Linked DNA regions of Homo sapiens: region 2 is linked to region 1. Evidence: fine-mapped expression QTL. Tissue or cell type: aorta. Region 1 holds a variant in brackets; the other region holds the start of a gene. All regions are shown on one strand. Distances are between the middles of the regions.

Evidence for each region. PIP is the estimated chance that this variant, and not a neighbour inherited with it, causes the effect.
Region 2: COL6A3 starts here. The variant in region 1 is fine-mapped to the expression of COL6A3 in aorta (GTEx, PIP 0.95).

Annotation. Positions count from the first base shown.
Region 1 is chr2:237,308,973-237,314,199 of GRCh38, forward strand. No RefSeq gene overlaps it. Among named protein-coding and RNA genes, the nearest start is that of COL6A3, 100 kb to the right of the region's middle. RefSeq lists an enhancer at 4,205-5,227. The variant G/A (reference allele first, on the strand shown) is at 2,615.
Region 2 is chr2:237,411,227-237,416,453 of GRCh38, forward strand. COL6A3 (collagen type VI alpha 3 chain) reads right to left here and starts at 2,938. Exons shown (of 44, transcript NM_004369.4): 1 at 2,727-2,938.

The DNA of each region.
Region 1 (5,227 bases):
ACCGTGTGGATAGACCACATTTTGTTTATCCATTCATCTATTAATATTCAGCGTCCTTCTTAGCATAGTGGTGTTTCTCCTGGTCTCTCCTTGTATAAATATTTATACCAATTGCTACCGAAAAACACACAATTCCCTCCTCATTTCTGAGTGAACTCTAAGTATCAGAGTGTTCTCAGCAAGCAGTTGGCAGGGGGAAGCAAAAATTGTTCTCAACCAGAAAACATTCACTGAAGAGCTGACCACTTGCCAAATTAGCCTCCATGCCTTCCCCTCTCCCTGCTTAACACTGCAGCTGCCATAACACAGTCAAACCATGTCAGGCGCAGCCATTCTCTTCCTGATTGGAGGAGGCTATTAATACAACAGAAATACAATGCAAATTAACTGCAAACTTCTTCAAAGAATGTAAGATTTTGTGTAGCAGGTGACAGTCATACTAGAGGACTTCTGGAATCACAAAGTCTGGTAGAACAGTTATCACTGAAAAGGGAAAAGTTAACAAAATTGGTGACATTATCAGTGACTCGCAACAAGACTTAATCCCAAAACATCTAAGGGATTAAGAGAGGCCTTGGAAAGATGATTAAATCCCTGGAGCATTTTGACAAGTGTGACTCTCTTCACGAACTTGCCAGAAAGTCAAATGAGAGAATGTTTCATACTTATCATGCAATATCGTGGTCTCACGTGAAGTGTAGCCTTAGCCTGACCCACTAGATATTTCAAAACAATAATTGCACAGCAGGATTGTTCTGCCTTGAGGAGAAGTTAGGAACAGGTTAGAATAAATTGTCAAAGAAATAAAGAAGAACATTTCTGAACTTCTAATCTAAAAAAAATACTTTTGACAAAATTCAACATTTATTCCTAATTGTAAAAAACAATACATTAAAAGAGAAAAATATTTAACATAAATATATATAACATAGTATATAACATGATTGCTTAACGTCTAAATTCAGAACCTAATACCAGAAAACAATGAATGAGACATTCTCAGTGAAGATAGAAATGCTTAATACCACACCATGATGTGTAAGTACTAGGAAGTTTAATAAAATAAGAAAAATAAGAGCTACAAATGTTGGAAATTAATATCAAAATACTATTTATAGCAAAATGATATGATAGTATACCAACAGATGGTGCTGGGACAATTGATTGATAATTTGGAAAAAAAATAAAATTCCTACATTAAACCTCCCTCCAAAAAAATCCACATCTCAGATATTTAAATTTAAAATTAAATAAAATTTAAATTTAAAAATACTAGGAGAAAATATGGGTGACAATTTCTTATGGTTTACTATGTGGTTATAAGTAACAGAAAAGGTTTCAACCTAAATGATGTAGAAAGTGAATTCATTATAATTTATGATATACTATCATTGCTCTTTCTACTAAAGGCCCGCATGGGACTGAATAAGACCTGGAGTGTTTTGGGAAATGAAGATGGCTTTGCTCTCGCTTCCCCTTCCCTTTTCATCAACCTCACAGTAAGTCCAGGACTTCTGCTGCACAGCTTCTGGGCTGCTTGTATAACTCACAAGCAGCCTTATTAGATCTCCTAGTCCCTGCATGTTTCAACCAAATAAGGCACTCTTCGAGACCCTAACAAAAAGAAAAGAAGCCTAAACTCTTGGGTGGACACCAATGGCCACTTCTCCCACGCCCCTCACAAGGTAAGAGGGGCAAACGCTCCTGTCTGGGCATCCCGCCGTGAGGGGCGCTGTTACGCCATGGTGGTGCTGCGCCCTGATGTTTGGGATATTTGGCAGCCTCTCTTTTTCTCCTTGGCAGGCCACTTAGAGCTGCGGTTGGCCCACTGGTTTTTGAACCCAAGGATGACCTGAGTGCTGAGAGCCCTGGGTCCTCAGCTCCCCACCTGAGGTTTCCCTGGCAGCGGAACCCTGGTGAGCTGCCTCTCAATTTCAGGTTGTGATATCCATGTATGAGTCACAGCCTGACATCTCTGAGCGTCAGCCACTCCTAAGCCCGACTGCCTAATATAACTATTGAGATTCAGTTTGCTCCTAGAAAGCAGAGTTAACCCTCGGATGTTGTCCTCTGCTGTGGTTCATTGAGCAAAACCTGGCTCCTGGAGCCCACATTATTAGGGAAGTGGGGCGGGATGTCAGGGGGCCATTCTCAGAGAAGGGGAACCAGGGGCTGAGCAGACGCCCAAACCGCATTCACTCTAGTGTTTTTTAACCTGGAATTAAAGATGGCATTTATAAGCACAGCAGCAGAGATGAACTTTGTAAGGAAAAAAAAAAATTAAAAGGTATGAGTTCAGAAAAATTTAAAACCATATAAATAAAAAGAAAATGATAAATACTTTAAAATTAGCAATATTTGTGAAAGTAATTCAATCAGTAAAGAAATATTTAAAGTAGAACAATAAATAGGCCAAAAGAAAAACAGTCTGGGCACGGTGGCTCACACCTGTAATCCCAGCACTTTGGGAGGCCGAGGCTGGTGGATCACCTGAGGTCAGGAGTTCCAGACCAGCCTAGCCAGCATGATGAAACCTCGTCTCTACTAAAAATACAAAAATTAGCTAGGCATGGTGGCAGGTGACTGTAATCCCAGCTACTCGGGAGGCTGAGGC[G/A]GGAGAATTGCTTGAACCCGGGAGGAGGGGTTGTGGTGAGCCTAGATTGCGCCACTGTACTCCAGCCTGGGTGACAGAGTGGGACTCCATCTCAAAAAAAAAAAAAAAAAAGAAAAAGAAAAAGAAAAGACAAAAAAAAAGAGGGGGCCCAAGCTCTTTGTCTGACTTTCAGACTGGGTTGAATTCAAAAGCAGCTGTGTGACTAAGAGCAATTACAAAACCTCTCTGAGCCTCTGTTGCCCATCTACAAAATGCAAAGCTCCCATCAATGTGGGAATAATTAAACGTGACACTGTGAGCCAGGCATGGAGCTCAATCCCTCAATCCCCTCCATCCCAGAGGAGCTATTGTTTCTGTTGCTGTTAGTTTGGTTGGTTGGTTTGTTTGTTTTCACTGTTGTTGTTTAGAATAAATTGTTTAAAATTTTAACTTCACTAGTAATTTTAACCAATCAAAATAATGCAACATCAATTTCACAAATCAAATTAGCAACAAAGATTTAGTAAAAATGAACATATTTTTAGATGAGAGATGAGACATTTAAAAGACCATTAGTGGGTTGGGTGCATTGGCTCACGGCTGTATTCCCAGCACTTTGGGAAGCTAAGGTGGGTGGATCACCTGAGGCCAGGAGTTCCAGACCGACCAGCCTGGCCAATATGGCAAAACCCTGTCTCTACTAAAAATACAAAAAATTAGCCGGGCATGCTGGTGGGCATCTGTAATCTCAGCTACTCGGGAATCTGAGGCACGAGAATCACTTGAACCTGGGAGGCAGAGGTTGCAGTGAGCTGAGATCACACCACTGCACTCTAGCCTGGATGGCAGGGTGAGACTCTGTTTCAAAAACAAAAACAAAATATAAAATACAATACAATACAATAAAAGACCATTAGTGGGCGTATAAGTTGGTGTAGCTTCTCTAGCGGGCAGTTTGATGATGCATCCCAAAAGACTTTAAAACATGAGCCATCTTGGACACACATATTTCATTTCTTGCAATTTGTCCTGAAGTAACAAAAAGAGAACTGGGTAAATAGCTATGCAAATGTTACTCATCGCTATGTTGTGATAAAAGTGTGCCATCACTGTGGAGTGAAAAAGTAGAAACGACATAGGTGTCCAAGAAAATGAGACGGCGTGACAGTGGTACACGCATACCTATGAAAGATCAGGAGTTTATGAAAACCAAGCTGCAGAATCATACTCAGTCACGAGAAACACAACCGTGATCTCATTAGGAAGGACCGCCGAATACTGGACACTGCTGGCCACATTCTTCTCCTTGATGTTCTCTCCCACCCTCACTCAGTTTCCAGAATCCACCCTCCCACCTCCTTCTTCCTCTCTTCCATTCCCCTTGAAACCTGCGGAAGGCCCCATCCCTGTGTCCATCCCGAAAGGCAGATGCTCCTCAGTGGCCCTTGCCTCTCTTTGCTCACTATACATTCTCTCTGGGTGACAGCATTTGAATCCAAGGCTTCCTTGCCATGCTTGGATGAATAGATCTAACTGCTGGCTAATTAGCTTGTACCCCATAAGGACTCAAAAGCAGGATGCATTAATTTTCTTGACCATTGCATAGCTCATCATGTGTTCCCTGTCTCAAGAACGGTTCCACCATGCACCCAGACAGTTGGGCACCCTTGTCGCTCAGCCCTCTCCTCACCAGACACATCCAGCCAGCCACCAGCCCGGATCCCCTCATTGTCTCCTTCCCATCTCTTCAATCCCCCACCCCTTCCCTTGCCCAGGGCTACAGTCCTCAGGAAAGCCTTCACATCTCTCTCTCTAGACTGTTCACGTCCTCCCTGCTCCACTTGACATAAACCTAATAGTTCATTATAAGGGAAAATGGAGAGTAGATTGTCCTGGATACTGAAATGCAATCATGTCCTCTGCTTCCTTAAACACTTAGTCAATGTTCCTCCCTCTGTGCTGTCTTAAACATAAACTCCTTTGTATGACAGACAGGGCCCTTCAAGACCTATTTGTCAGCTATCAGCCCTGCCAGATCTCCACTATCCCAGGAAGGGCCCCAATGACAAAGCTCATGCCCCCTAAATAATCCCCTCTCTCCAGAGACGTCAAGTGTTTGCACGTGCACAAGCACTCACCGTGCAGAAACGTCTCATCCTTTCAGCCCTACTGAAATGCCAGCCCTGCTACTCAGTCTCCCCAGGTGCTGTTGAGTAGACGTGAATGTGTTTCTCCTCAACTCCCAGGCTTCACCCTCACCTCAATTGGAACAAATATTATCTTGTCTTTACTTGCCTGTGCATCTGTCTCTCAATGCTATTTAAGAGCAAGGGCCAAGATTTTTCATTTTCTTATCCCCACTGCTTTTCACAGTGCGTGGTTCACAGAGGGTCTCTTGATGGCACGCATGCCTTCATCAAAGCTCCTATCATTTTGCACAGCAGTCATTGTTTATACATCTGTTTCCCCTGCTAGGCCAGAGAGACAGAAACTCTAATGCATTCATCCTTGTGGATGCACATCCCATAGCACAGACCATTGCTTGCTAACTACACACCAAAATGGTTACCAGACATTAAAACTTACACGTACGCCCGTGCCAGCATGATTGTTCTTGGATCTGCTTGGATTTTT
Region 2 (5,227 bases), 100 kb after region 1:
GAGCAGTGACAAAACTGAACTTTCAAATAAAAATTTTTGCTAAAGCTGTTACTGCGCCTGCAAGGAAGTGTCACGCAATAGTATTCACGACTTGCCGGTGAATTTTAAGTCCTAAACATGGAATTTCACATATAAGTGGGAGGTGATATCAACCGCTGGTGAAGACTACGCTTGATCCAGTTGTCTGAACACTCTGAGCAAGGAAACAAATGAAACCTCGCTGGCAAAAAGTCACTGCCAGCTTCCAAAGCTTCCAAAGAAGGCGGTCTTGTTTCAAGCTGGCTTTAGGCATCCAGGTCTATGGGTTCCGTTCCTGAAACTAAGGTCAGGATGAGCAGCCTCATTGGAACCATAAATCAACAATCGACTGAAGAGAGGAGCTTCTTCCTACTTTCTCATCGGGGACGTATTAAGTTCTAGGATAGGAAATCACAAAAGGCACTGATGATAAAGTCAGTGCAATTTGCTGAGTCCTGAATGCTTTAGAAATAAAATGAAGTGTGAAGTAAAGACAATTTTTCAGAAAGGTGCCTACCTCGTATCAAAAATATCATTCAGACCCCAGGTTTGGACATTTGCCACATGTCCCCTCACCTGTGGGCCACAACTATAGTGGGGTGGAACACGCTCCCTGCCAAGCAGGGAAAGAGCGGGGCCAAGGGCTAACATTCTAGAGGCTTCCCCAGCCACCTCCCAGAAAGGTGCTGTAGCCACACCCTCCAATGCCTGGATAGGAAAAGCCAGGACAGCCTCACTTCACCCCAACATGGAATTCCTTCCCAAGCCCTCTGCTCCACTCAGTGTCTGCTTCCTGGCTTCTCTCGACCATGAGTGAGGAAAGGAGAGAACTAAACCTCTGGGTAGCAAGAAACCCCCTAAACAAAGAAGTCCAGACAGGCAGCTGTTCCTACATCCTGATCTTTGTAAAAGCCACGCCTCCCCACCCAGGCTTTCATCCTCAGCTACAAGCCCACTTCAGAAAGAAGAGCATACAGGTCCCCTCCTTCAGCGCCCTCCACCCCCAGGAGGTGGCCTGAGCAGGGCGGCCAGCCCCGGTATTCCGGTCACGGAACCGATGCCCCCGCCCCACGGTCCACCTCCCTTCTTTCTCGGTTCATTGGTAGAGTCTTAGTGAGCCCAAAGCAGTTTTCCCAACGAGATGTGAGTTATTTGGGATCCTCCGTCACTGGCTTGTCTGCTCTCCTTCAATGGGGAAGGATTTCACTGCCATCTCAGGCACTCGCTCCCTGGCCTGGGCAAGGAATTCCGCATCTCAGAGCCCCTGGTTGCTCATTTTGAAAACCAGGAAACTACTGCATCAGTGGCTTCTGACCAAAAATCTCTTCCATTATCTTTAGCCCAACAAAAACCTCAGAAGTCCCAGTAATGTCATCAACGGCCACCCACTCAGTTTTCAATATAGTTTTGCTTAGGAGCAATGTAACTTTGATTTTAAAGCCATTTCGGTTGTTTTTTACAGCATTAAGAATGGGACCCTGGGGAGCTGGGGGATCCCAGGTTGAGCATCCACCATCCCCGTGAGCTCTGAGCACCCTGCAGCTCTAGCACCCTGTGGTCCTCGCCGGGGTGAGCTGTATGTGGGGAGAGAAGCCAGTCAGCCGGGGCCACAGCCCTGCCTCCCCATCCAGCACAGCAGACTCCCCTGTGCTCAGAGGGGTTTGCTCCTGGGGTCTGCACCGGCCTCGAAACTGGCTCCTGGGGCTTCCTGTGGAAGCAGATTTTTCTTTAACCACTCCCTAGTCCCTCCCAGTGACCCCACCCATACTTCAATACCCGTTCATTATCCAACATAGTAGGCCCCTTGAAACAGGTTCCCCAAACAGGCTGGCCACTGTCAGCGAACGTGTCCATCCTCAGCAAGAGAGGGCCCGAGCCCCACCCTGCATCCTCCGGGCCAGAGAACAGCCCTCGGGGCCTCCCAGCTCGGCACTGGCCTCACCTCTGTGCAGCATGGGCTGGCCCTGCAGCCCCAGGGGCCCTGCCTTAGACACTCAGCATGCTGCCCAAATGCCCAATTCCTTCTTCTCCTCTGACCCCTGCAACTCCTTTAAGCAACCCCAAGGGACAAAGTCTCCAATAGAGACTTCAGGTTCCTGGAAAGACGAAAGCTTGACGGCAATGACTGAGCGACCCTTTACTTGGCCCTGATCCTGAGCACCAGAGTTACTCCAATCTTGTGAAAGCAGCAAATGTGCTCCACCAGGACCTTCCCATGGGCGGCCCTGGGCAGAAAACCCATGCAGGTTGTTGCACCCTGACCTAGTGTCACCACCCAGAGAGCTCAGAGAACATCTCCCAGCGGAGCCGCCCGGCAGGGAGCTATGCTAGTCCTCAGCAAAGACGCTTCTGCAAACAAAGCGGATCCCGAATGGGTTTTAGAAGGCGGCAGTAACTTAAATAAATCATGGGCCGAAACACACTGCCGCCCGGAATGCACAGGGCGCGTGTAGCAGCCACAGACACGCGGTGGAAAAGTGCTCACACTCTTAGGCAATCATGACCTTAACCAATTTAAGGAAATCCCATTGCCATAAAGTGAGAAAGAAAAATCAGCGGAATCTTCCAGAGACCTAAAACATGTACAGAAAACTGGCGATCAGCATGAACGTAAGAGCCACTAACGCTACCTAGAAAGGATCACTTCAGGTTAAGAGCATTTCCTTCTAGCCCCAAACCTGGAAAAACAGAAGAGAAATCACACTTACCCCTGAGCAAACCTGAAGGCGTGTGTCCCTGGGCTCCTCGATTCAATTAGGTTTGAATAGGATGCATACTTTTCCCACTCACTGCGTCTCTTTTTCTTTTTGCAGCCTTTCTCCACCAAAAAAGTGGAGACTCAGAGCTGCGGAGGAAAACTCTTGCAGTCCTTGCAGGAGGCTGGAGCCCAGGAGAACTGAACGGCCTTTGGTGGAAGACTGAGCTCCAAACTGGACTGGGGCCAGGGATACCAGTCAGGGCTTCCTCCAGCTCCTCCTCCTCCTCCTCCTCCCTCCCGGACCCCTCCTCTCCCCCTCCTCACTGCAGAACTGACCCAAAACTGTAAATGAAACCAGACTCCTCCACTCTGTTTCTTCTGGCCCCCGCTCAGGCTGATGTCACCCTCTGAATTCTGTCTTCACCCTACAAGCGTTTAGCTGGACTCCTGCAAGCCCCAACTCTTAAAAAAAAAAATTGACCACTCCTACTCGTCACCTTTTGGGCTGGGCCCTTGGCGTCAAAAAGAATAAATTTTGGAATTTCTTCGTGGGTATCCATGGTTTTCCTGCAATGTTTTCCAACACCATCTGAAAGGAAAACAGGAAATGCAGTCCCCCGCTTACCCTCACCACACCCTCCCATTTCTTCTTGAAGTTTCTGAATTGAGACTTCTACTAATAACTTCCCCCTTCAAATAGAAAAACCAGCAATTAAAATCGCCTTGGTTTTCTGTTAACCAAAGCTCTGTTCACCGGCAAAAAAAAGGAGGCTACATTTCTCTTAATTTCTATATCTAATGATTCTGATTGTGGCGCTTATAGGCCCATTCTAGGCACAGACGGGGTAATAAAAATGGTTATCTTGCCAAAGCTTCGGGAAAATACTTGAGTAAGAACTTCTGTTTCTAGAAAGCTTTGCACATTTCAAAACACTTCAATATACATTCTCTCCTTTATCACAAACATCAACACCCTAAGCCCTTTTAAATAGAAAGATGTCTTCTTTTATTAGGTGAAATTGTGGTCCCATTTTACAGATGAAAGAAACAGGCTGGGCACGGTGGCTTATGCCTGTAATCTCAGCACTTCGGGAGGCTAAGGCAGGCAGATCACAAGGTCAGGAGTTGGAGACCAGCCTGGCCAACATGGTGAAACCCCTACTAAATCTCTACTAAAAATATAAAAATTAGCCAGGCATGGTGGCAGGCGCTTGTAGTCCCAGCTATTTGGGAGGCTGAGGCAGGACAATTGCTTGAACCCAGGAGGCAGAGGTTGCAGTGAGCCGAGATGGCGCCACTGCACTCTAGCCTGGGCAACAGAGTGAGACTCCAAAAAAGAGAAAAAGGAAAGAAAGAAAAGAAATGAAAAGAAAAGAAGAGAAGAGAAGAGAAGAGAAGAGAAGAGAAGAGAAAAAAGAAAAAAAGAAAAGAAAAGAAGAAAAGAAAAGAAGTTCCGAGAGAGTAAGTGACATCGTCATTGTCCAGTCTGGGTTAGTAACAGAGCTCAAATGACAACCCAGCTTTGGCCATCCCCAAACTTCTCACTGCTCTCCCATCATGTGGTCCTTATGAAAAGTCCATTAATGTGAAATATCAAGAGACATCCGAAAGGTTCTTTTTGACTGAGAGATCCTTCCAAACCAAGTTTGAAGAGCAAAGAAATCATTAACTCCTTTCCATGGATTATCTCCCTCCAATTTAGGGAAGAAAGGAGACAGCACCCCAGAGAGAATGCCTGCTCCCCTCTGCAGCTCCAGGGCTCCCTTCCTCTCCCATAAAGAAGCCCAACCCATCTCTAAACCAAAGGGCTCACTTGCAGAGCACTGGAGTAGGGAACAAGGATGGAACCTGAATTATGGGGTTCTTAGGTGAAGACACGCTGAGCAGAGGCTCCGAGTATAGAACCGCGCTGCCTGCATGACATGTAGAAGGACAACACGCCCCTCCAGCGGCATCCAATTCTCTGCCCTCATCCTCTCTGCACAGTGCAGGCGTTGACTCAAGCCCCTACAGAGACCGGGGATACTTGCTGCCACCCCCTTGGTTAGAGTCTGCAACTTCAGCACTAAGGAGGACTATTTCTCCCAGAACATTGTCTGCTGCGAAGAAGACAATCTTTGATTACAACCCCATGCTCCAAGCAGCTCAGCAAACTGAGGTTAACTGAACAAGCACGTTTTAGGTGTTTCCACTCCACGGTTTCTTTCAAATACAAATACACTCTTTTTCGCAAAATCGCTAGGCAGATGCATTCCTTGGTATTGAAAGTTTCTATTACAGTCGACCTCGTATCCATGGGTTCTGCATCCATGGATTTAACCAACTGTGGTTCAAAAATGCTTTTTAAAGTAGATGATTGCATATATACTGAACATGTACAGATGTTTTTCCTTGTCATCATTCTCTAAATGACACAGTATAACAACTGTTTACATGGCATTTACACTGTATTAGGTATTATAAGTAATCTAGAGATGGCTTGAAGTACACAGAAGGATGTGCATAGGTTAT